3 separate regions of the Homo sapiens genome follow, and regions 2 and 3 are each linked to region 1. The links come from fine-mapping of genetic effects on gene expression. A gene starts in region 1. Each other region holds a variant in brackets. All regions are shown on one strand. Distances are from middle to middle. Region 1 holds the start of TSHZ2 (teashirt zinc finger homeobox 2). Region 2 overlaps TSHZ2 (teashirt zinc finger homeobox 2). Region 3 overlaps LOC105372666 (a long non-coding RNA gene).

What was found. PIP is the estimated chance that this variant, and not a neighbour inherited with it, causes the effect. A credible set is the group of variants that fine-mapping cannot tell apart.
Region 2: its variant is the best candidate, but not a certain one, in a credible set for the expression of TSHZ2 in whole blood (TOPMed, PIP 0.86).
Region 3: its variant is the best candidate, but not a certain one, in a credible set for the expression of TSHZ2 in whole blood (INTERVAL, PIP 0.79).

The regions. Positions count from the first base shown.
Region 1 is chr20:52,968,737-52,976,922 of GRCh38, reverse strand. It overlaps TSHZ2 (teashirt zinc finger homeobox 2), which reads right to left and starts at 4,565. Exons shown (of 3, transcript NM_173485.6): 1 at 3,590-4,565. The coding sequence starts at 3,629.
Region 2 is chr20:53,278,837-53,287,022 of GRCh38, reverse strand. The region is part of intron 2 of TSHZ2 (teashirt zinc finger homeobox 2); the gene reads right to left. Among named protein-coding and RNA genes, the nearest start is that of TSHZ2-AS1, 220 kb to the left of the region's middle. RefSeq lists enhancers at 3,482-4,088, 4,351-4,906. The variant T/C (reference allele first, on the strand shown) is at 4,992.
Region 3 is chr20:52,346,407-52,354,592 of GRCh38, reverse strand. The region is part of intron 4 of LOC105372666 (a long non-coding RNA gene); the gene reads right to left. Among named protein-coding and RNA genes, the nearest start is that of ZFP64, 160 kb to the right of the region's middle. The variant C/G (reference allele first, on the strand shown) is at 4,012.

The sequences.
Region 1 (8,186 bases):
AAATTGAGGGAGCTGTTCTTTCTTGCAAGACTCTTCAGATCTGGGTGATCAGAAAGCCTTTAAGAGTCAGCAAGAGGGAAACATCTAATTGCTTTGGGTGGGCAGGGGCAGAATCCTATAACTTACATATATAAAAGATATATTCACAAGATGTGCTCACAAAAGATTGTGTGTTCTATTGCAATTGGCTGTCATTAATATAAAAGCAGTTCAGTATGGTGAAATAAAATACGTATTATTTATGTGCGCGCACAGAGGCTGAGATAGGCTGTAGAAAATCAAGAGTTAGATTCTAAGTCTACAATTTTAAATTTTTAACCACTCTGCATCCTGCAAAATGCAAACAAATCAAAACACCGTTCTGTTTTACTTTCCTGCCATTTTCTCTATCTCCCTTGAAATGCATAGAAGGGGAAAATGCTGGTACTGAATCCTGCAATATTTTCAGGTAATAGTGGATGTATTTTAATGGTGAGTGAAATATACATCCAAGGAAGCAAGCATGCACACACAACACAAACCCCTGGGGTACTGTAGGCTGCTTTCTCAACTTTTTTTTTCTTGCCCTAAGTAATAGTATGGTGGAATAGCATAGCTTAAGAAAGCCAGGAAGAATGACATTTCAGAGGGAAATACTCTGATTTAGCTGTTTCCTTAAAGAGAATTGTCCCCTCACATCCCTTCCCCCTGAAGGGGGAGGAACATAACAAATAAAGACTAAAATTCCTCATCACTTACAATATCATCTTGTTTATTCTGTTTAGATACCTGCTTTAGTAGAAAGTTCTGTAATTGATTCCTTGAAACATGGAACTTATAACTAATAATACAAAGGAATCAAATTGCCTGGAACAGTTCTTGGGAAAAAGAGCGCTCCGGGAGAGCCTCAGCTCGGATCCACTCACAGGCTTTTTCTATCTCCCATTATTCATTAATCAAGCTAGAAATCAAGCTTTCAACATCAGTCCTTGGGTGTAATTACTTACAGTTGTGCATTGTGTTTAATTTTAAGCAGTGATAAAAGTTAGTATGGCCATAATCTTAGAACCCACCTTCTCCCCTTCCCTGGATGTTAACTGACTACAGAACCCCAAAGTGGCTAACTTTACTTGTGAATAACCACTTCAGCTGAAATAGAGTAGGGCATTGATGACCTTAGATGAACAGAAGAAACACTGCATGAAAAACTGTCTCCTCTATTAATATGTGAGCAAATAAATAAGGTAAGAGGGCCCTCACTGTGTACGAAATGAATCATCCTTTTTCAGCTTAAAAAGGGTTTCCGCTTCTGGTGAAAATAATAAGAATCATACAAAACAAACATACAAAGACAGTAGGAATATAATAGGCCAGAAAACTGAAACTATAGTTACAAGTTTCTAACACACACACACACACACCCCCACACACCCACACACACCAATAAACTAGCCAGCACCAACAGACACAGCTTAATGAAAAGGACCTGATTTAAATAATGTGATACAGTGTTATGTTACGTACACCTGGATCCTTATCGATCGTAGGATAATTATAATCAAAGTCGAGCAATTCTGAGCAATGCACTTTTTGTAATGAGCTTACTAAAGGAGACATGTCCAGTCATTCTGGTAATTTAAATTACTGCCTAGTTGTTGATAGTCTTTACCGGAACAACCAGAAAAAAAAAAAGAGTAATTTTCAGGGCAGTATCACTTCTTGCTGGACCGTAGCCCAGGGTTCTCTTTCGGGACAACAATAAGGACGTTATCTCTAATAATGTAGCTACACTTAAACTTATGTTGCCAGAACTAGATGCAGCAGGCTCACTGTTCCTGGGTCTCAAAGGCCATTGAACACATCCACACGCTGTCAGATTGCAAAGCAGCCTAAGTTTTAGGAAATCAGTGAGTTAAATGCAGAAAGAGACAACGGTAGGAAAGAGACATTGTTTTCCAAAGAAGTAACTAGAGTTGAAAAAAGAAAACCTCACTGATGAGGCAAGTTCCAAATACGTACCTCACTAAAAATATTTTAATTATTTTGCTTTTAGGGAAACGATCAGAAAATATATGAATCCACGCTTTATCAATATTTCTGCATGCCACTTGAACCAACTTACAAATAGGGAAGCAATTCTGTGCTCAGAAGGAATGATAATTGTGGATATTTTGAAACACTCAGGCGAGGAAGGAGGATGAGCTTGGTGGTTCAACACATTCAGACAAGGGATGCCCACTCTCCTCAGATTCCTAACTAACTTTGGATTTGTTCTAAGGGTGACTTTGCAAAGTTTATGAAAGTGTTCCACCAAACTTCTCCCTATGTTTTGCTAGAGTTGGAACAGAATGAAATGTGGAGGTGGGTCTGCAGAAGACCAGTCTTACCTAATGTTGCCTAAATCAAGAGGGTAAAGACAGAGAGAGAGGAAAAAACAACTAAACTTAAGCTTTTTGCGAAAGCCCTGATTCAACTAAAGGACACAAAGAAATAAAAACGCCCACATTAAAAGCCAAACAAGATAATAATTGTGCATGTCTGGCTCTGAATATAGAGGGCAAGGTTTGCGTCACTGGCACTCTGAGTTACCATGGTGAGTGATTTATTGATATATATCAAGAATGAATAGATCAAAGGCAGCGAGATGACAGGTGATCAATCAAATGTCAAATCAAAACTAGCAATCAAGTGGAAAGCTGATTTTTCAGTGGGTGGGTCTGGCAGAAGAAAAATGAACTTTCATATTACATTTCCGAGAAACAAAACCCCAGCATACTATTAAAAAAGCAATTAAGCAACCCAAAAGAAAAAAAAACTTTAGAAGGTCTATTGTACTGATCCATTAACCTGTTCTTATCTTTTTTAGGGGGCAGTAAGGATTCAGATGGGATAGTTTTTACAGTACGAATCATTTCACAAAGTTTGCAACTCTCTAGGCAAAGAAAATCCAGAGCTGTTTAAATTTCTATGGGGAATTTCCCCCCTACAACCCTTTTTGGTTTTTTTAAAGAATAGGGAAATTGTTAATTACATTTCCAAATATGGATCCTTTTAGAAAATATATGCAAAGAGTCATCCATTTCCTGGGGGCATTTTGTCCACCTTGGTGATCAACGCTAAACTCCTATTGCTGGCCCCAAAGCCTGCCTGCAGCCCGAGTGTTAGGTATGCCTCACACTTCAGCGCCCCAAGCCCCAGTGAGAGGAGACGCTATCCCTGGAGGCCAAAAGCCACTGGCACTGACCACGCAGAGGGATGCAGGGGTGGAGGGGCTGTCTCCCTACTCCGCACCCCAAATCCTCAATCCGACTTTGGCCCGAGAGGCAAGAAACAGACTGGAAGAAAGTTAGGGGTGGGGTAGAGGGTGGAGGAAAGAAAGTTTAAGGAGGAAAGGCTTGGTGGGATAGCTCACCCCAACCCAACCGGAGCTTGGAAGGGGAGGATTTGGGAGACCAGAGAAGGCGAGAGAGGACGGGGTTATTAGAAGGGCACCCGGCGCAAACTCCCCCGAAAGCTTAAGTGGGTGGTGCCCCCGGGCACCCAGGGGCAAGGAGGGCGGGCGAGGAGCTCGGCGCACAGGGCAGCCCCGAAGCGGAGCCGTTTCTCTTACCTGCCGCCCGCTTGGGTGCCTGCTGTTTTCTCCTCGGCATCCTCTACTTCGCTCCAGTCCCACTTCTGGCGCCCCAGCCCCGAGCCGCGCGCTGGGGCCCGCTGTCTCTCTGGCCTCTCTGGGTCTCCTCCGCCTCTTGCCCGGTGGCTCCTAGGACGTCACTCGGCCTCTGTCCCCCTGACGATCCCCCCTGCAACTCCTCCACCACGGGCCAGAGACCCCCCTCTCTGGGTGGCAGACACGGGTGGCTTGTGCCGGCTGCTTTGAAGTAGAGGTTGGTTCTGCCTTGTTTGTTTGTTTGTTTATTTTGAATTTTTTTTCCTCTCTCTTTTTTGTTTTTGCTTTTGGAATTTTTTTGGTTTTGTTTTTGCGGTTTTTTTTTTTTTTGGTGACTGTTGAGACACTTGATTTCTTTATTAAACATCCAAGCCCGGGTTCGGATGGAAGGGACGAGGGGCGCACACGCGCCACAGGCACACTCGCGCGTAAAGATAAGGAAAAAAAAAAGGCAATCCTGGGAAGGTAGTGGGTTTCTTCTTTTTCTTCTTCTTCCTTCTCCTCTTTCCCTCCTCCTCCTCCTCCTCCACCTCCTCCTCCACCTCCTCCTTCTTTTCTTCCTCCTCCTCCTCCTCCTCCTCGCCGATCTCTATGGCGGATTCGTGCCGGGGGGAGAGCGATCACTCACTGTAGGTTTGTGGCTGCTGTCAGATCCCCGTCTGTGAGTGATATGCGAGAGGACAGGAGCGGGTTTTGGAAAGACAGAAAATCTGGAATTCACTCACTCACACACACACACAGACACACACACAGACACTCACACACGCACTCACACGCGCACGCACCCCCGCTTCCTCGCACACACACACTCACACCCCCCACATATGCACACACACACAAACACACACACACACCCTCGCACACACACACAAGACAGGGCGAGGCGATGCCAGCAAACATCGATCCCGCTGAACAAACTGAACATTAACAAACTCCTCCTCCTCCTCCTCTCCCCGCGACCTGATGACAGGGAGAAATTTACTCCCCAGCCGCAGAGCGCCAGGCAGCGGGAGCCTATTAAAGGGACAGCGTCCCGCAGGGGAGAGGGGCTGGGGGCGGGGGCCCCGGCGCGCCGGCCCAGGCCCCTCTGTGCGCCCTCTCCGCCGGGGCGAGGGCGTGCCCACCGGGCGCGGGGACACCCCTCCGGGAGGCGGAAGGGGCGGGGGCGGGAGGAAAGGAGGTGAGGAGGGAAGGGGTGCGGGAGAAAAGGAGGCAGTGTGATGATGGCTGAACTCTGAAGCTGGGAGGCTGTGGAGGGAGATTCAGGGGGGCCAGGTTGGCTGACCAGCAGGGACCATGCACAATCTTAGGAGAGGGAGAACTTAGGTTTGCTCGGGGCTGGGAAGGGGGAGGGGACCTTATCCAGTGAGGATCTCCATCCTGTAAGTCTTAACCTGCCCCCACCAAAATGTGCTCCCCACGACCCCTTCAATTTAGTGCCCCTGTCCCTCCCACTTTCTCGCTAATCAATGGGTGGTCACAAAAACAAAAATCTCCCTTCTGTCTACTTTAAGGTCTAATCATATACTCCTCTTTTTGTTTCCTTTGAAGAATGTTTATTGAGCATCTACTATGTGCCTATTCTGGAGACACAGAGGCCACAGAGAAAGGGAAGGTGGTGGCCATGTTGGTATTTATATTCTAATGGGGGAGTGCAGACAAGTGCCCCCCAGCTATCCAATCTTTGCTTAAATGTCCCCTTTTCCCAAAGGTCTACCTCACCTAAAATACACACACACACACACACACACACTCCCTGCCCCATTTCTCCATTTTGTTATTCCCCAGTGAGCTGATCAGTGAGTGTCACACAGGTTATAGACAGTTTTCTATTCTGTTGATTGTACAAGTTCCCCTCTTGAATGTAAGCTCCAATGGAAGGAAGGATTTTTGCCTCTTTGTTCTCTTATATCCCCAAGTGCTGGCAAAGCACAAGACATATAATAAGTGCCCAGTAAAATATTTGTTGAATGAATGAAAAGTAAGCAAGCAAATAAACAGGATACTTTGAGTGATTCGCTCCATGAAGACGTTAAGCTGAGTGCTGTAATAGTGTCTAAAAGGGGGTGGGTGGCTCTAGATTCAATGTAGGATATGGCATTTGAGCACAGAGAGATTGAAACAAACATGTGATTATTGAGTTCTGCTATCGGCCAGGCACCTTTTGAGGTGTTGGGGGCAAGTCTGTGAACAAGGTGAACCTAGACCATGCCCTCAAGGAGTGCTCCTTCCAGTGAGAGGGCAAAGCAACTGAGGGCATTTGATGCAGGCTGGGACTAGAGGTGTTTTTTTTTGCTTTATTATTTTTTTTATTTCAATAGCTTTAGGGGTAAAAGTGGTTTTCGGTTACATGGATGAATTGCATAGTGGTGAAGTCTGGGATTTCAGTGCACCCGTCACCCGAGTAGTGTACATCGTACCCAATAGGTAGTTTTTCAGTCCTCACCCCCTTCCCATACTCCTCGCTTCTGAGTTGCCAATGTCCATGATATCTTTCCATATGCCTTTGCATACCCATGCATTAGCTCCCACTTATAACCAAGAACGTGTGGTATTTGGTTTTTGATCCTGAGTTACTTCACCTAGAATAACGGCCTCCAGCTCTATCCAAGTTGCTGTGAAAGACATTATTTTGTTCTTTACTATGGCTGAGTAGTATTCCACGGTGTATATATATGTGTGTATATACACACAAACACACATATATATACACAAATACACATATATAGATATATATACCACATTTTCTTTATACAATAATCAGTTGATGGGCACTTATGTTGATTTCATATCTTTGCAATTGTGCTGCAATGAATATACGCCTGCAGGTGTCTTTTTGACATAATGACTTTTTTTCCTTTGGGTAGATACCCAGTAGTGGGGTTGCTGGATCAAATGGTAGATCTACTTTTAATTCCTTGAGAAATCTCCATACTGTTCTCCATAGAGATTGTACTAATTTACATTCACACCAGCAGTGGGTATAAAAGTTCCCTTTTCCCCACATCCACACCAATATCTGTTGTTTTTTGACTTTTTAATAATGGCCATTCTGGCTAGGGTAAGGTGCTATCTCACTGCAGTTTTAATTTGCATTTACCCTGTGATTATTGATGTTCAGCATTTTTTCATTATGTTTGTTGGCCATTTGTCTGTCTCCTTTTGAGAAATGTCTATTCACGTCATTTGTCCACTTTTTAATGAGATTATTTTTTTTTTTTTCTTGCTGATTTGTTTGAGTTCCTTGTAGATTCTGGATATTAGTCCTTTGTCAGATGCATAGTTTGCAAATATTTTCACCCATTCTGTAGGTTGTCTGTTTGCTCTGATGATTGTTTCTTTTACTGGGTAGAATTTTTTTAGTTTAATTAGGCTCCATTTATTTATTTATTTTTGTTGCATTTGCTTTTGAGGGCTTAGTCAGAAATTCTTTGCCTAAGCCAATGTCCAGAAGAGTTTTTCTTAGGTTTTCTTCTAGAATATTTATGGTGTCAGGTCTTATGTTTAAAGTCTTTAATCCATCTTGAGTTAATTTTTATATATGGTCAGAGACAGGGATAGTTTCATTCTTCTACATGTGGCTATCCAATTTTCCCAGCACCATTTATTGAATAGGGCAGGGGTCCCGAACCCCTGAACCATGGACTAGCACCTGTCCATGGCCTGTAAGGAACTAGGTGGCACAGAAGGAGGTGAGCAGGTAGGGGTAAGCAAGCATTACCATTTGAGCTCTGTCACTTCAGCAGGGGCATTAGACTCTCATGGGAGCTCTAACTCTATTGTAAACTGTGAATGCAAGGGATCTAGGTTGCACACTCCTTATGAGAATCTAATGCCTAATGATCTGAGGTCAAACAGTTTTATCCCAAAACCATCCACCCTGCCCTGGTCCATGGAAAAATTGTCTTCCATGAAACCAGTCCCTGGTGAAAAAAAGGCTGGAGAACACTGGAATAGACCTTTTCCCAACTTATGTTTTTATATGCTTTGCCAAAGATCAGTTGGTTATAAGTATGTGGTGAAGGTGTTCTTAGGAGGAGTGATTACCCTGAACTTGGCGAAAGGAAGGATGGTTACCAGGCGGGGCTTCAAGGGAAGAGGTAAGTCAAAGCTGAGTCTTACATATAACAAACGGGTAGGCAAAAAGGGAACTCTGATACTGAAGCCCTTGTATCAAAAAGACACCGTGTAAGGCTTCTGCTTCCGCATTAAAATCTCCTGAGGCCCTTGTTAAGATGCACGTACCTGGTCCTTGCCCTAGAGCAAGATTTTCTAACCCAGGCCCTATTGACATTGAAGGTCTGATAATTCTTTGTTAGGAGGGGCTGTCCTGTTCAATGTAGGATGTTTAGGAACATCCCAGGCTTCCGTTGTGACAATGCAAACTGTCTCCAGATACTGCCCAATGTCCCCTGGTAGGCAAAATCGTCCTTGGCTTAGCATCACTACCCTAGATCTTCTGAATCAGAAAATTCCGGATGAAGGCTTAGAGATCTGTATTTTGAACATGTAACCCATCCATCCCTACAAGTGAAACTTC
Region 2 (8,186 bases), 310 kb before region 1:
ACTTCCTTGTCCCCTAGATGATGAACCTCGGGGAGGAACTGTGTCCTGGTCTGGCATCCTTGGTCTGGCATCTGGTCATCAATTCAGAAGTGTTACGTGTGTGTGTGTGTGTGTGTGTGTGTGTGTGTGTGTGTGTATTTTTGAGACAGGGTCTTGCTCTGTTACCCATGCTGAAGTATATTGGTACAATCATAGCTCACTGCAGCCTTGAACTCCTGGGATTAAGTGATCCTCCCAAGTAGCTGGGACTACAGGTGCACACTACCCTACCTGACTAAGTAAAAATAAATTATTTTTGTAGAGAAAGGACCTCACTGTGTTGTTCAGGCTGGTCTCAAACTCCTGGGCTCAAGCCGTTGATGTTCCTACTTTAGTCACCCAAAGTGCTGGGATTACAGGTGTGAGCTACTGTGCCTGTTTTTACATATTTGAATAAAGCTGTAGAAGATAAAATGTTCTTAGAATTCAAGTTGGAGAGAAGCCGGCTATTTCTGCCCTAAGACCAAAAAAAAAGAAAAACAATAAAGGTGACACCTCCAATCAAAAAACAACTGGATTTTCATCATACCCTTACTAGGGAAAATGCCCTGAAAAAGAATCTCTAATGAAGGACTGTAGACATCTTGAGAACTCTTTTCCTCATCCTGAACTCTGTTTTCTTATTTCACACTTTTGTCTCCACACTTCCAGACCTGACGTCTCTAACTGTAAAGTCTTGTGTTGCCTCACAAAGCCTCATGACAGAATTTTCTTTTAATTAGTGCATTCATAATAGCAACAATAATTCTAATCATTAATAAGCCGCTCACTCCGCTTAGGAACAAACACAAATGGCAAGAAGTCAATGTTAATTTTAAAACACATGTAAACAAGAATCCAGGAAGGCCAAACACATAACCTTTTGGCATTATTAATGGCAGAAAACATTTTCCACTGAGCTCGAGAAGTAAATGCTACAACAACTGCACTCCATATACCTCTACCTTCACTTTTCATAATAAAAATAAATTGATTATTATGTAGCAATTTAAAAAAAAACCTCTGTTTTCCCTTCCCCAAATACCCAAAGCTTCATGAGGGTAGGAATCATTTCTGTCCTACTCCCTGATGCTACAGTAATTCTGGCATATAGTAGATATTCAATCCATCTGTGTTGAATGAATGAATCAATCCAATCTCAAAGATGTCCTGACAGATCCTTTGTGGAAACATATATAACCCTAATGGCTCAGAACATCACTTCACAAAGGAAGCTGGGCACCACTACCATTTCTTTTTCTTTCTTTCTTTCTTTTTTTTTTCTCTTGAGATGGAGACGGAGTCTTGCTCTGCGGCCCCAGGCTGAAATGCAGTGGCACCATCTTGGCTCACTGCAACCTCCACCTCCTGGGTTCAAGCAATTCTCCTGCCTCAGCCTCCCAAGTAGCTGGAATTATAGGCAGGCACCACCATGCCCAGCTAATTTCTGTCTTTTTAGTAGAGATGGGGTTTCACCATGTTGGCCAGGCTGGTGTTGAACTCCTGACCTCAAGTGATCTGCCTGCCTTGTCCTCCCAGAATGCTGGGATACAAGCGTGAGCCACCGCACCTGGCCCCATTTCTCAGATATTGTACTGACCCAACATCTGCAAAAAAATTTCATAAAGTTCTGAATTTTCAATCAAGAATATCTAAATTTTATTTTCATTTTGGTGAAAAATGAATCCAATCCTCTCCTGGATCCTCAGGAGAAGAGACTCCTATCCAAACACTGCTGTATGAAATCACTGCCCGCATTCACGTTTATCCTTGCGTTGAGCTGGTGCTCTGTGATCAACGCAAAAGGACATTTAACTTTTTAATACCGTGTTTCTCACTTTGTGGGGGCTTGCACATTTTCCCAGTTCTTAAGTTTGGGAAATGGTGGTAGCTACAACTTCCCCACTCAGCACAGTGACACCCAAAGTCTGGGCAATGCCTGGGGCCACCATCTGTCTCCTGTGCTTCTGACTCTGCTGAACAGCTTCAGAACGTGGAGCTGGATCCGAATTGCAGCGCCGGCCCTCGTGACAGACCCGGGATGTCTACGATCATTTCCTCTGCTGCCTTTCATATCACTGAACTGAAACGATCAGGCCTGTCAAGAGTAAGGGCCCCAGATGAAAGGCCAGTGCATTAAGACAGAACATAATTGCCAGCTTCTGAGTTGCTGACATTAATCGTTTTACTGAAAGAAGACAGTAGAGTTCCTCTCTCTCTTCCTCTCTCTATTTCTCTCTCCTCTCTCTTTCTCTCTCTTATTGCCATCACACAATGGGGGTGGGGGGGACGGGCGTGTAGGGGGGAAAATCCCAACAAGATTTGCTAATTAAAAGTAATATGTTTTCCCGTGTTTTTGGCAATTTGATAACACAAAACACTTACTTCGGGGCCACAGGGGGAAACAAACGGAGACAGATAAAAAATGTTTTGTGTTCATCCAAGCACAACTATGTTAATGCGTATTATCCCATTAATGTGCATCAACATCGGGAATCGGCTCACCAATGCAAGCAAGAAGCATACACTTATCATCATTTGATAACATGTTTAATGACAGATTGACGGGAGATTTGCAAATGTGAACTGGCATCAGTGTTGCTAACTTCAGCTTCTGCCGCCGCCTGTGCTATGCCAGCATATTTATGTGCATAATTTGATTTCTCAGCCACACTGTTAGTACATTTTTAATATTAACTATGCACGAACAGACAGCCGAACTTAAGTTGCACTGATGGTTGGAGTTCATTAGATTGAAAAAGATGGGCGTGCGTAACTAAGATGGAGGTGGCGGTCCAGCATTCAAGAAGCAACACTTAACAGACACACTCCATTCTCAACAAGCCCAAGCTACACATTTCACGTTGTTCGAGGCGGTAAAACTCTTATGAATGAAGGAAGAAGTGGAAGAAGAGGAAGAAAGCCCCTGCCGGGCATTTGGTCAGGAACTTGACAAAGAGCCCTGGGAATTACTGTACCCGTTTTTACTTTCCTTCTGCCACCTTCTTTCACCCCAAACTCCTCGAAGCTCTACATTCAAGCCTCTTTTGCATATTGCAGTCAATTGGATGGAGCAGGCGAGCACAGGTTTCTATTCATTCTTCATAAACCCAGGTCACAGACCAAGCATGCAGGAAAATCTTCCCTGGATAAAAATAGGGTTAATCTGTTTATCTTGGAGAGTCAGACCAATCTGTAATTGAATTTTGCCCTCATCACAAAACATTTGTGTGACTGGGTAGGATGACCTCACTTTGCTATACCTCCATTCCTTCAACTGTAAAATAGGAATAAGAAAATCACCTACTTCCCAGAGCACGGAAGCTTGAATAAGCTAAAACAAAGAAGTACTAAACCCAGTGTTTGGCACATAAGTAAGCTTTCAGTATATGTTTATTCTTCTTACTATTTTATTTTTTCCTTTTTTTGGTAATTAAAAAATTATAACTCTGCTTCCCAGCAAGCCCTAAAGTCCAGCAGAGCTGGGGTTTAAATCCAAGCTCCACCAGCTGAAAGCTGTGTGGTGATGGTCAAGGCGCTTAATTTCTGTTGACTTTAGGTACTTCATCTGTAAAATAGGGGTGATGACAGGGACCTATCTGGTGTGATGGCAGGAAAGATAAAATGGCATGATGTATGTAAAGAGTTTTAAAGAGTGCCTCGGACATAGTAAGCATTCAATAACTATTAGCCCTGATTTTTTGCAAGAATCAGGACAGGGCATGAGTTCTGGCAGTGATAATGAAGTTTGGCAAATTTGCATTTGAATTCTTGTTCTGCTGCTTCCTAACTGTATGATAATGGGCCACTTACTTAACCTCTTTAAGGCTTAGCTTTTTCTTCTACAACATGGGGACCCATGATCCTACTTTGGAGGATGTGGGAAGGGAATAATGAGATAACACTGGTAGGGCGCTAACTCCATGTTAATTATGATTGTCATAAAAGTTTGTGTCTTCAGGGCTTTGATGGTGCCTGGTACATAATAAATGCTGAATAAATATTTGTTGATTGAACCAGCAAGTCAGATCATTATTAGGCATGTCCCAGGTTCCGTCTTGGGAAAGATTTGTCCAGGGAACAGGATAAGAGGACTGCATGTGTCTGTTCTGATCTGGGAGTGGCACAGTGAGAATGTGTGAAGGAGTCTCGGCAAGGCCTCCTCACGACAGCAAGCAATTGACACAAATCACATGCTTGGCACAGGAATGCCACCTCCTTATACAAAGAGCACTGCATGACGCCACTGGCTAGCCATTTTGTATTTATTCCTTCGAATCACCAGTCTGAAAGGTGCCACTAGAAAAATGCACAGACTTCAGTGTCAGAACCGGCCTTAAATCCTAACTCTGTCACCTGTCAGTCATGGTCACCCTCAGTATGTTACAGACCTTTCTGAGGTCCATTCGGTGAATATGAGTTAAGGATTTTAAATTTTACAGCCCCTGTTCTGCCCTTGAGGGGCTTATACCTGAACCTCGGTTTCCCCATCCATAAAATGGGGGTAATATCGCTACTTAAAGCGTGTGGTAAGGGTTAAATCAGAAAAAAGATAGAAAAGCTCTTGACACAATGCACACAGCAGGTACTCAGTCAATGCCAGTTCCCTCTCCCTCACTGATCTGCATATGAAAGGCTAAGCCAGAGGCCAGGCTTCTCTGATCACTTTCAAAAACGTGATTCCTGTATATTTGCACTATTTTGAATTGCTATGTAAATTAATTATTTTATCAGTGACAATCAGGTGAAAGTCACCTCTTCTTTTGATCCTTTTTTTGGACAAAAGAACTTGATATATTTTAACATCAGCTCTGAGAGGTAGGTGGAGAGTCTACCTTTATTCACAAAGGTAACTTTGGGGAAACTGAGACATTTTTCTATGCAAGTGAGAGCTAGATAAGAACCTGGCCACAGGGAAATGCATCTGTAGAGGACACAGTAGGGATGCCTTTGGATTTTGGATACTATATCCT[T/C]GTGCCCACGTCTGGCTTCTGAGTGTTTTACTTTCTAATAGGTGCACCTGCAGCTCTCTTCTGGGGATGTCCCCTGGTCGCTGAAGCTGCTCTGCCAGTACACACAGAGTGCCCTTGCTGCCTTCAAGTGTGTACCCCTGGCTATCCTTGAGCCAATGACTGATTGATGTGGAGTCAATCAGTCATTAGCCAAGGTAGCCCAGCCCTTGCTTACAGACAGGTGGAACTCTGAGGCTCCCCATGGGATCAGGCAGAGGCTAGGACTTGCTTGGCTTTCTTTCCTTCCCTGTCCTGCTTCCCTACTCCCTTACTGGTTCTTCCTGGGAGCACATTCCTGAGAAACCAGGGATTCAATAGGTTTAATAGCCCAGGAACCCTGATGTCAGGATCTGCTTCTAGGACCCCCACATGAGACACTATCCTACTAGACCATAGGCTGGTAAACTCTAGCCTGTGGGCCAAATCTGGCCCTCCACTTATTTTCATAAATAAAGTTTTATTGGAACTCAGCCATGCTTAATCATTTACATATCACCTATGGCTGCTTTTGTGATACAATGGCAGAGTTGAAGATTTGTAGTAGACACTGTATGGCCTACAAAGCCTCAGACATTTACTATCTGGCCTTTTGACAAAAGAGGTTTACAAACCTCTGTACTAGATAATGCTTTAAATACACCAAGCTTTTTTTGACCTCAAGAACTTTGCATGTGCTGTTCCTTCTGCCTGGAGCCCTCATTCCTTGACTCAGTGGATGCCTGGCTGCTTCTCATTATTTAGGTCTCAGCAAAAATGTCAGTTTCTCAGAAAAGACTTTTCTGACCACCCATCTAAAGTAGCCTTCCATTTCCCCATTTTTTGGCTCAGCATTCTTACAACTAACAGCACTGAAATTATTCTCTTTGATTAAATTGTTTGCTCCATGACAGCAACAGCACATAAACTGCATGAGGCCAGAGGCTTTCTTTGCCTTGCTCATTTCTGGATACAAGCCTGGCATAGTATCTAAATACAGTTTACTTTTAGGAATACTTGCTGACTGGCCGGGCGTGGTGGCTCACGCCTGTAATCCCAGCATTTTGGGAGGATGAGTGGGCGGATCACGAGGTCAGGAGATCGAGACCACCCTGGTTAACACAGGGAAACCCTATCTTTACTAAAAATAGAAAAAATTAGCTGGGTGTCGTGGCACGCACCTCTAGTCCCAGCTACTCGGGAGGTTGAGACAGGAGAATCGCTTGAACCCAGGAGGCGGAGGTTGCAGTGAGCTGAGATCGCGCCACTGTACTCCAGCCTGGACGACAGCTAGACTCCATCTCAAAAAAACACACAAAAAAACCCCCACACACAACAACAACAACAACAAAAAACAAACAAACAAACAAACAAAAAAACGACTTGTTGACTAAATGATGAGAAGAATCAAAAATACCTAAGTGGTTGCATTCATACCAAGTGGATCTTCTAAACCAGGACTTAGCATAGCTAGCTCCATGTAGGTGGTGCCAGGTCACCGATCCCCCTCTCATTTTGGATCCTTACTCCTAATGCGATGGAAACATATTTCATACTCAAGTCACATTAGTGCCCAGACATTTACTACCTCTGGTATTAATTCGCTTATTTTGCCACATTATATCATGGGAGGTCATTTTATGCTATAAGCTGTAATTTTTGAGTTTTATGATATAAATTGACCTGCTTTGGGAACCAGGCTATAAAAAGGATTGCTAGTGAGGAGGTTAAGAAAAAGTTATGTGGCTGTGTTAATGGTTTTAATTGATGCATTAAGTTTATAAAGTTTTTGTTGAGGCCTTCATATGCCTGAGGTCTTCAAGGAGCTTCCTGATAAGGAAGGAAAGGTACATTCACACACACATACATGTCCTGTGTGCAATCCATTCCTGCACACAGGAGCAGAGTCATCTTCAAAAATGCCCATTGGGTCATGCTCTTTCCCTATTTAAAGCCTCTCAATGTATTCAGAGTAATCTGAACTCATTACCATGGCCTGCACAATTGAGTCTGTCACCTTGAGCTCACAGCATTCCAGGGACACTGGCTTTCTTTCAGTTCCCCACAACGAGCCCAGCTCCTACTTGCCTCAGGGCCTTTGCACTTGCTGTCCCTGTCTGAAATCCTCTTCTTCTCATTTGTGGCTCCCTCAGTCCTTCATATGTCAGAAGCTGCCCCTCAAAGGAGTCTTCCTGGAGCACCCAAAGTAAATTAGCACCACTGCTACCCAGGCCCATAATGCTCTATTCCCTTCATGGGATCCTAAATGGCCTTATTTATTTTTTAATTTTGTGTCTATTTCCTCCAACAAGAATGTAAGATCTGTGAAGGAAAGGAAAATGTCATTTTGTTCATTGCTGTATCCTTGGAGCCTAGCACAGTGCTAGATATGAGAAAATACATAAACAACATGATATCAGATAGTTGTAATTTTATGAAGGAAATAAAACAGGGTGACGAGAAAGAGAAAAGTGAGAGAGCTGGATTGCTTTGGATCAGGGGTTGGTGAACTGTTGCCTGTGGGCCTGATCCAGCCTGCCATCTGCTTTCATAGGGCCAACAAAGTAAGAGTGGTTTTTATATTTTTAAATGGTTGAAAAATCAGAAGAAGAATGATGTTTTATGACACACAAAAATGACAAGAAATTCAAATTTCAGTGTCCTTTGATAAAGTTGTATTGGATCATAGTCACTACCATTCACTGGGATATAATCTATCATTGCTTTTATGCTACAATGGAAGATTGAATACAGCTGTCCCTTGAACAACATGAGCTTGAACTGTGTGGGTCACTTATACATGGATTTTCTTCTGCCTCTGCCACCTCTGAGAAAGCAAACCAACCCCTCTACTTACTTCTTCTTCTCAGCCTACTCAATGTGAAGATGACAAGGATGAAGACCTTTATGATGATCCACTTTCACTTAATAGTTAATATGTTTTCTCTTTCTTATGATTTTCCTGACAACGTTTTCTTTTCTCTAGCTTACTTTATTGTAAGAACATTGTATATAACGCATATAACATACAAAATATGTGTTAATTGACTTTATGTTGTTGGTAAGGCTTCTGGTCAACAATAGGCTATAAGTAGTTAAGTTTTCGTGAAGTCAAAAGTTATCTGTGGATTTTTGATTATGCAGAGGATCAGCACTGCTAACTCCCTCATTGTTCAAGGG
Region 3 (8,186 bases), 620 kb after region 1:
GTTGGAATTTGCTGACAAAAGCACTGAAACACAGATTTCATAACTGTATTCCATATATCCAAAAAGTTTAATAGAAATGTGAAAGATATTTTTTAAAAGCAGAGAAAATTTAATATAAAAGATAAACACAATACCTGACATGAAAAATACACTGAATAGGATTATTGGCAGATTAGACATTGCATAAGAAAACATTAGTGAATATAAAGTAACAGGAATATTAACTATGCTAAATATTCCTTTAAAAATAAACAGAACATCAGTAAGCTGTGGGAAACTTCAAGAGTCCTAAATAGATATGCAATTGGAGTCCCTAAAAGCAAAGGCAGTAAAGGTAAAAAAAAATTATAATATTTAAAAAAAGAATGGCAGATAATTTTCCAAATTTTATGAAAATTATAAACACACACATCCAAGAAGCTCAATGAACCCCAAGCATCAGAAACATGAAGAAAATGAGACCAAAGCATATCATAATCAAATTACTTAAAACCAATGTAAAGATAATATCTTAAATGTAGAATAGAAAAAAGATATGTTTACACAGTGTATATACACACAATGTGTGTATATAAAAATAAGATAATATAAAATTACACAATGTGTGTATATATAAAATATACACAATGTATATAAATTGTGTATGTATATTTTATATATGTATGTATGTAAATATAAAAATACACAATGTGTGTATATAAAAATAAGAATAGTCGTAATTTCTTATCAAAAACAGTGCAAGTAAGAAGACAGTAAAACAGCACCTTTAAAGAAATGAGAAAAAAAGGTTTGTCAACCTAGAATTTTATACCCAGTGAAAATACATTTCAAAAATGAAGGCAAAATTAACACTTAAGATTTTATAATCAGCAGAACCACACTAAGAAAAATGTTAAAGGATTTTTTCAGGCCAGGGAAAATGATACCAGATGAAAACTGGAATCTACACAGAAGAATGCAAAGCGCTAGAAATGGTAACTATTGGAAAACATATAATAAATTTTTCTTATTATTTAATTTCTTCAAAAGATAAATTACTGAATGACAAAAACAATAACAATGTAGTGTGGGGTTTATAATATGCGTAAAAGTCAAATGTATGACAAAAATTATTTCTCTCAAAAGGGGAGAAATGGAAGTTTACAATTATCAGGTTCTTATACTGTATATGAAGTAGTGTAATATAACTTGAAGGAAGACTGTGATAAGTTAAAGATCTATACTATGTACCCAAAGTAATCAGTAAAATAGCAAAAGAGTTATAGCTAATAAGCTAATGAAGGAGATAAAATAGAACCATAAAAAATTTTAACTAATCTAAAAAAGACAATAAATGCAACAAAGAATAAATGGAGCAAATAGAAATCAAGTCACAAAATAATAAATTTAAACATGATCATGTCAATATTCACATTAAATGTAAATGGTTTAAGACAAAGATTGAAAGATTTCATTTAAAAAAGACCATCTTAATTCTGCCTACAAGACACCCACTGTAAATACAAAGACACAAATAGGTTAAAAAAAAAAGATAAGTAAACATATACAGTGCTAATGCTAATCAAAAGAAACCTGGAGTGGCTATATTCACCAAAATGTAGAATGTCTGCTCTTAGAAAGATGATGTTAAAAGCATGGAAAGATATGCCACAGACTGGGAGAAAGTATTGGCAAATCATGGATCTGCTAAAGGTCTTGTATTCAGAAGATGTAGAGAACTCTCAAAACTCAATAATAAAAAAGCAAATTAACCCAAAAAGATTTGAACAAACACTTCACGAAAAAATATATGGATAGCAAGTAAGCACATGAAAAGATGTTCAGTGTCATTAGTCATCAAGAAAATTCAAATGAAAATCACAGTGAGATACCAATACACACGTTCTGACAGAATCACTAGAAGTAAAAAGACTGACATACCAAGTGTTGGTGAGGATGTGGAGCAACTGGTAATCTCATACAATGCTGTTGAAAATGTAAACTTGCACAACCACTTTGGAAAACAGCAGTTTCTTTAAAAATTAGACATAAATCTACTATGTGATCCAGCTATTCTACTCCTCAGCATTCACCCAAAAGAAATGAAAGCACATGTTCATGCAACGACTTGTACATGAATGCTCATAATGGCTTCATTTGTGATCGCCCAAAACTCAAAACAACCCACATGTCCATCAACAGGAGAATGGATGAACAAATTGTAATATATTCATACCATGGAGTGCCACTAAACAAGAAAAAGGAATGAACTACTGAGATGTAACAATGTGGATAAACCTCAAAATAATTATGACTAGAGAAAAAAGTCAGAGCAAAAAAAACCAGTACATAGTACATACTATATGAATTCATTTGTTAAAACTACTACACTAGGAGGCTGAGACAGGCAGATTACTTGAGGTCAGAAGTTCGAGACCAGCCTGGCCAACATGGTGAAAACCTGTCTCTACTAAAAATACAGATATTAGCCAGTTGTGGGGGTGCATGCCTGTAATCCCAGCTACTTGGGAGGCTGAGGAAGGAGAATTGCTTGAACCCGGGAGGCAGAGCTTGCAGTGAGCCGAGATTGCCACTGCACTCCAGCCTGGGTGGCAGAGTGAGACCCTGTCTCAAAAAAAAAAAAAAAAACTGCTGGAAAAAAATAAATGAATGTATCCTAACATCAAGCAGATCAGTATTTGCCTGGTCTTGAGAAGGGCAGGGAGAGAAAGAAGGAGTGGGTTACAAAGGGGCAGAGAGGAAACTTTTGGGGTTGATGGATTTGTTCATTACTTCAACGGTAGCGATTGTTTCCCAGGTGTGTACATATGTCAAAATTTGTCAAATTGTACACCTTAAATATGTGTGGTTTATACTGTGTTAATTATATCTCAATAAAGCTGCTTAAAAAGCAAGAGGAAGAGGAGAGAGTGAAGGGAAAGGGCCAAGGGAGGAGAAGCAGCAGCTAATGCAACAGCAGAAGCAACAGCAGCTGCCCCCAAACAAACATCCCCTCAGGTTCCCTTAGCAGAAATAAGTCACATGGCTTTGCCCTATTTACAAGGGAGGCTGAAAAGTAAATGTCCAGGGAGCTCACCCTTATTGTAGAAAGTGGGCTCTGGCATCAAGGGAGAAAGGAATAAACCGGGAAAATGGATTTTCAATCAGTAGCCAACAGTGTCTGCTACTTAAACACTGGGCAATAGATGCTCCTTTAGCTCTGCTTTAACAAAAACTGTTTTACTAAAAGTAACTAATTTCCTCATAAGAGGCATTTTGGATTGTTATATTTGTTTGCCTCTGGAAAACTTATAAAAGCAAAAGTGGATATACATGGTCTAACGACAAGAGAAAAAGTCAAATCCTGAATTCCGGTCTCTCAGAAATAGGATCCAGACTGAGCTTCCCCTCTGTTCACTGCCAGCTTTGCAAGATGTCCACTATGTGGGTATGGCCAGCAGAGGCCTGGTGAAGTAAGGAATATCCTTGGACAGAAGTCAAGATCTTAAGGAGAAAAGCTTGCCATTCTAAGCGTAGCTTGGTTAGTGAGGGCAGGGGAAATTCCAAATACATAATGATACTGACATTCCCAGTTGCTCCAAAGTCAAACCCCTACACGCTCATGTCTGGAGTCAAGAGAAAGCTATAAGGAAAAAAAAAAAGAGCTGTTTGGCTAAGAACTCATTTAGATTTGATCACAAGCAAAATAGACTGGTACCAACAGAGACATACAGGAAAGAGGGGTATGGAGTGGCTTACTCTCCCAATTTGTAGTTGAGTATTAACAAATCACCAGCATTTCAGGATGGAAGTGCATGCAAAACAGGGCCCAGTGAGAGGTGGTGGTCCCCAAGAAAAGCAGTGATGAAACCAGGGCAGGGGAAGGAGGACAAAATGGCCAAGAGACTGACAACCACATCTGTTCATGAGCAGATGAAAAACACCCAACCAGGGAACATGGAGGGCTATGCACCGGTTGACTGTGGGAGGGAGCTGGGTTCTGCAATTACAGGGAATGCAGTCTATTAGCCA[C/G]GCTCTTCTGGTTGAATATAATAGAAACACAACTCAAAATGTCTTAGCAGAAAATAAAAACAACAAAAAAGGAAATGTCCTGACTCATGTCATCAAGTTTAAGGGTTACAACTTTCAGGCGCTGCTGGTGCTCAAACAACACCGTCAAGCAGCTCTGCTGGTGATCCCTGGTCTTGGCTGCATTCTCTAAGTTAGCACTGAACGTGAGCATTTATATTTTCAAAGCTATCAAACGAACCCAGCACAATTAAAAAGAGCACTCTTGGCTGGGTAATTCCAAAATCCGTAATAGAATTGAGTGTTACTGGGTTGAGGGACGTCATGTGTCTGTTTCTGAAGTAACCCCTGTGGCCAAGAGGGTAGAACTGACTAATTGGCTAGACCTGGATTATGCACCCATCCCTGGAGTCAGGCACAGGAGGTCAGCCCCATCATTTAGACACAGACAGAAAGTGGGGAAAAAGGGGTTCCCAGAGGAAAGCCGAGCTGCTGATATCAGAAGAAGGGAAAACAGATGCTGGCCAGGCAGCAACAACAGATTTCCTCTCTGGAGTAAGAGCCAGTTTAACCCAACAGGAGTTCAAGCTCATTCCCCCACACAGGACTGGTCGTCAGGCTAACAATGGCTGGCAGTCTGCCCTCCACAGCCTCTCAACTCTCCTTTCCTTTGTTTCTCTGCACAACTTCACACCATGCGTTCAGGGTCTCTCATGCTGACTCTGGCCTACAGCCTCATATCAAGGAAATACATCAGGTAAAAGCATTTGCTCTATGATGTTAATAGTAATATGTAAACTCATCCCAGGGTGTCTTGCACAACATGGAGGCATCTCCAATGTCCATTCCAACTTCACCTGTGATGCACAGTCTGAGGAGTTTCGGGATGACCTCAGCTACTAATATAAAGGTTAAATTAGGGGGAGAACACTTCCCCAAAAGGAAACTGTGGCATTTTTAGAAAGGGGATATGGGCACAGAGTTGTCCAGAAATAATGAATCTTACTCTATATTCAAAGCTATTAATAACGTGGTGGCTCACGCCTGTAATCCCAGCACTTTGGGAGGCCAAGGCAGATGGATCACTAGAGCCCCGGAGTTCAAGACCAGCCTGGGTAACATGGTGAAACTCATCTCTACAAAAAATATAAAAATTAGCCAGGTATGGTGTTGCACGCCTGTAGTCTCAGCTACTTGAGAGGCTGAGGCAGGAGGATTGTTTGAGCCCAGAAGGTCAAGTCTGCAGTGAGCCATCATCGCACTACTGCACTCCAGCCTGGGTGACAGAGCAAGACCTTGTCTCAAAAAAATTAAAAAATGAACAAACAAAAAACTATTAACAGTGTTAATAGTAATAAAGGATGACTTCTTATTTCTACATTTTACTTTTAATTTTTTTTAATTTTTCAAAAACATGCATTCATTCCAATATTATATAAAAGGAAAAACATAGTACATTTTAGATAACATTATCCTCTTTCAGCACTGATTGTTTTCATCAGTAAGATTGTATTCTAAGCAAAAATTTTCAAGTTCAGAGGAAATGATACCACTGGCTTGACATCCTGGAATTTGACCATCTATTCCAAAGTTATTTGAATGCCTCTGGCAATAATATCTTGCAAAAAAAAAGATTCTATGACATTTCTTTTTTCTAAACCACATCAGATTTTTGCAGAAGATGGGACACAAATTATGAATAAATCAATCAATATTTGTTTCTCCTGTTCTTCTGAGAGCCTGTCCTGGTTCTATTTTCTAGGGTTCATTGGAAATAAGTTCTTTAGGGGAAATCTCATGGTGTCTGGGATCTTTTTTTATTTCTTCATTTCCTTTCTTGTTAAGCCATATTACTCATAATGGCAGAGTGCTAGCTGACTATATAAATTTGCCCCTTTCTGTTTATCCTGTAGTTGCCTGTCAAAGCAAATAAGCCTGTTTTGCATTAGAGCTTGGAAATTAAATTGTGGGAGAGTAAGTCCCTCTAGTTAAGGTAAACCAGAGTGGTGTGAGTTCATACCCAAAGGAACAAGAAGCAGAACATCTGTATCTGTGGCAATTAGGCGACCTCGGAGTAGGAAGTGAAAATTTTTCCAAAGCACATTTATATACCCAGTGTAGCCAATCAGTTTTCTAAATATAAAAGCATCTGTTTTTAACCATCTTACCTTATCAAGACTGTGGCTGTAAAAGTTAATTCTCACTGATGCCATTCTCATAACTAAGAAGAAAATCTCACTTCCTACTTACTTCCTCTACCACTGTGTCATAACTTTAAATGGAATCCAAATCACTAAGAGTTTCTCTCTTAAAATATAGAAGCACAGAAAAAAGTGCTTCTGATTATGGCTCTATGTTCTTAACCCTGAACACCACTTCCATATTTTCTGGAACACTTTACATTTATCACGAGTTAATAGTAGTAAATATTATTGAGTGCTTGCTATGAACTTTCAATTGCTAGGCCCTTGATATACATTACCTTTTTTAATCCATACAACTCTAAGCGGTTAGCATTTTATGCTTATCTTACAAACACCAAAATTGAGTTTCAGTTAAGTAACTTTTCAAGTGGAATTCATCCATTTTTTTAAATATACATTAAAATAAATATATAACTCTGAAAATAAAAAAGCACTTCATCCATGTACTGTGTGAAACTTATCTCTTACTACTTGTTGTATATGTACCTCAGATTTTGAAAATTTTAAGGGAAAAGATTTTTTTGATCTACTGAATGCCTTGATGTGCCCACTCCTGCATGTGTGCATTCCAAACGGTTAATTGCATTTGAGCTACACAAATGGAATTATTAAGTTGTATTACTAAGACCAAACGCAAGCAATGGGCAGTGCTCAAACTTGGACCCAGGTCTCTCTGAGGAAGATATGGAAGCCAGCATTAATCCATAGGCTGGAACTCAGGTGTATACATTACAATCCCAGCTCCACCACTCACTAGCTGTGTGACCTTAGACAAATTAGTGAAATTCACCTTTGATTTCTTATAGCAGTAGATCCTACCTTGTATTGGCACCATTCCTCTAAAGATTAAATGAGGTAAAGCACATAGAGGCAGGGTCTGGTGCATGGCTGGTTCTTATGGTAGTCAGCCTCCAAGATGGCCCAGGTGATTCTAGCCTCCCAGTAATCATATTCTTGTATACACCCCTCTCCCACTAAATAGGACTGAACTGTGTAGAAAACTGTGGAGGTGACAGTGGTGTGATTTCTGAGACCAGTTCATAAAACACTTTTTAGCTTATGCCATGGTCTCTTAGCTCACTCTGGAGGAAGCCATCCATCATGCCATGAAGATACTCAGGCAGACTTCTGAAAAGGCCCATGTGGAGAAGAACTGAGGCCTCCTGCCAAGAGCCAGCACCAGCATGCTGGCCCCCTTCTTGGAAGAGTGAGCCTTCTTGGAACTGGATCCCCCAATCCACCATAATCGACCCTTCAGATGACAGTGACCCCAGTTGACACTTGCACAGCAATCTCATGAGAGACCTCAAACCTGAACTACCAGCTAAGCCACTTCTGAATCCTAGACTCACATAAACTGTGAGGTAATAAATGTTTACTGTTGTTTTAAGCCATGAAGGTTTGAAATGATTTGTTACGCAACAACAGACAACTAATGCAGTGCTCCAACAAACAGCATGTTCTTTACCAAAAAGCATCTTTCCACAAAGCAAAGACCTTTACAATAAACTTTAAGCTTTCTAGAACAGAGTAGGAGATGCAAATAATGGGATTTTTTTTTTTTTTTTTTTTTTAGGTTTGGGGGTTTTGAGTGGTACTATTCAGGTGACCACATGCCTGCACACAGGATCATATCCATTGAGAAGTTCCAAATTCCATTACTAACACCACCAGTTTGGACACCCACCCTAATACAACTACAAATCAGCAAACTAGTTTGCATTTTCAATATCCATCTGCAGATCCCAAATATGCCATCTTTCCCCCATGATTTCCACCATTCACTGCCTTGTTTCTTTTCTTCTGATTTCTCCCAGAAGCCCAAAGCAATGAAAGAAAAGCATGCAAAGCAGTATTTGCAGTGAAGAATCTGGTTTTTCCTATATGTTGTATCTTCCCCATTGGCAGCACGCAGCAACGGGCACAGAGGGAACAAGAACAGGATTAATAGTTTTGTATTAACAAGACTCACAG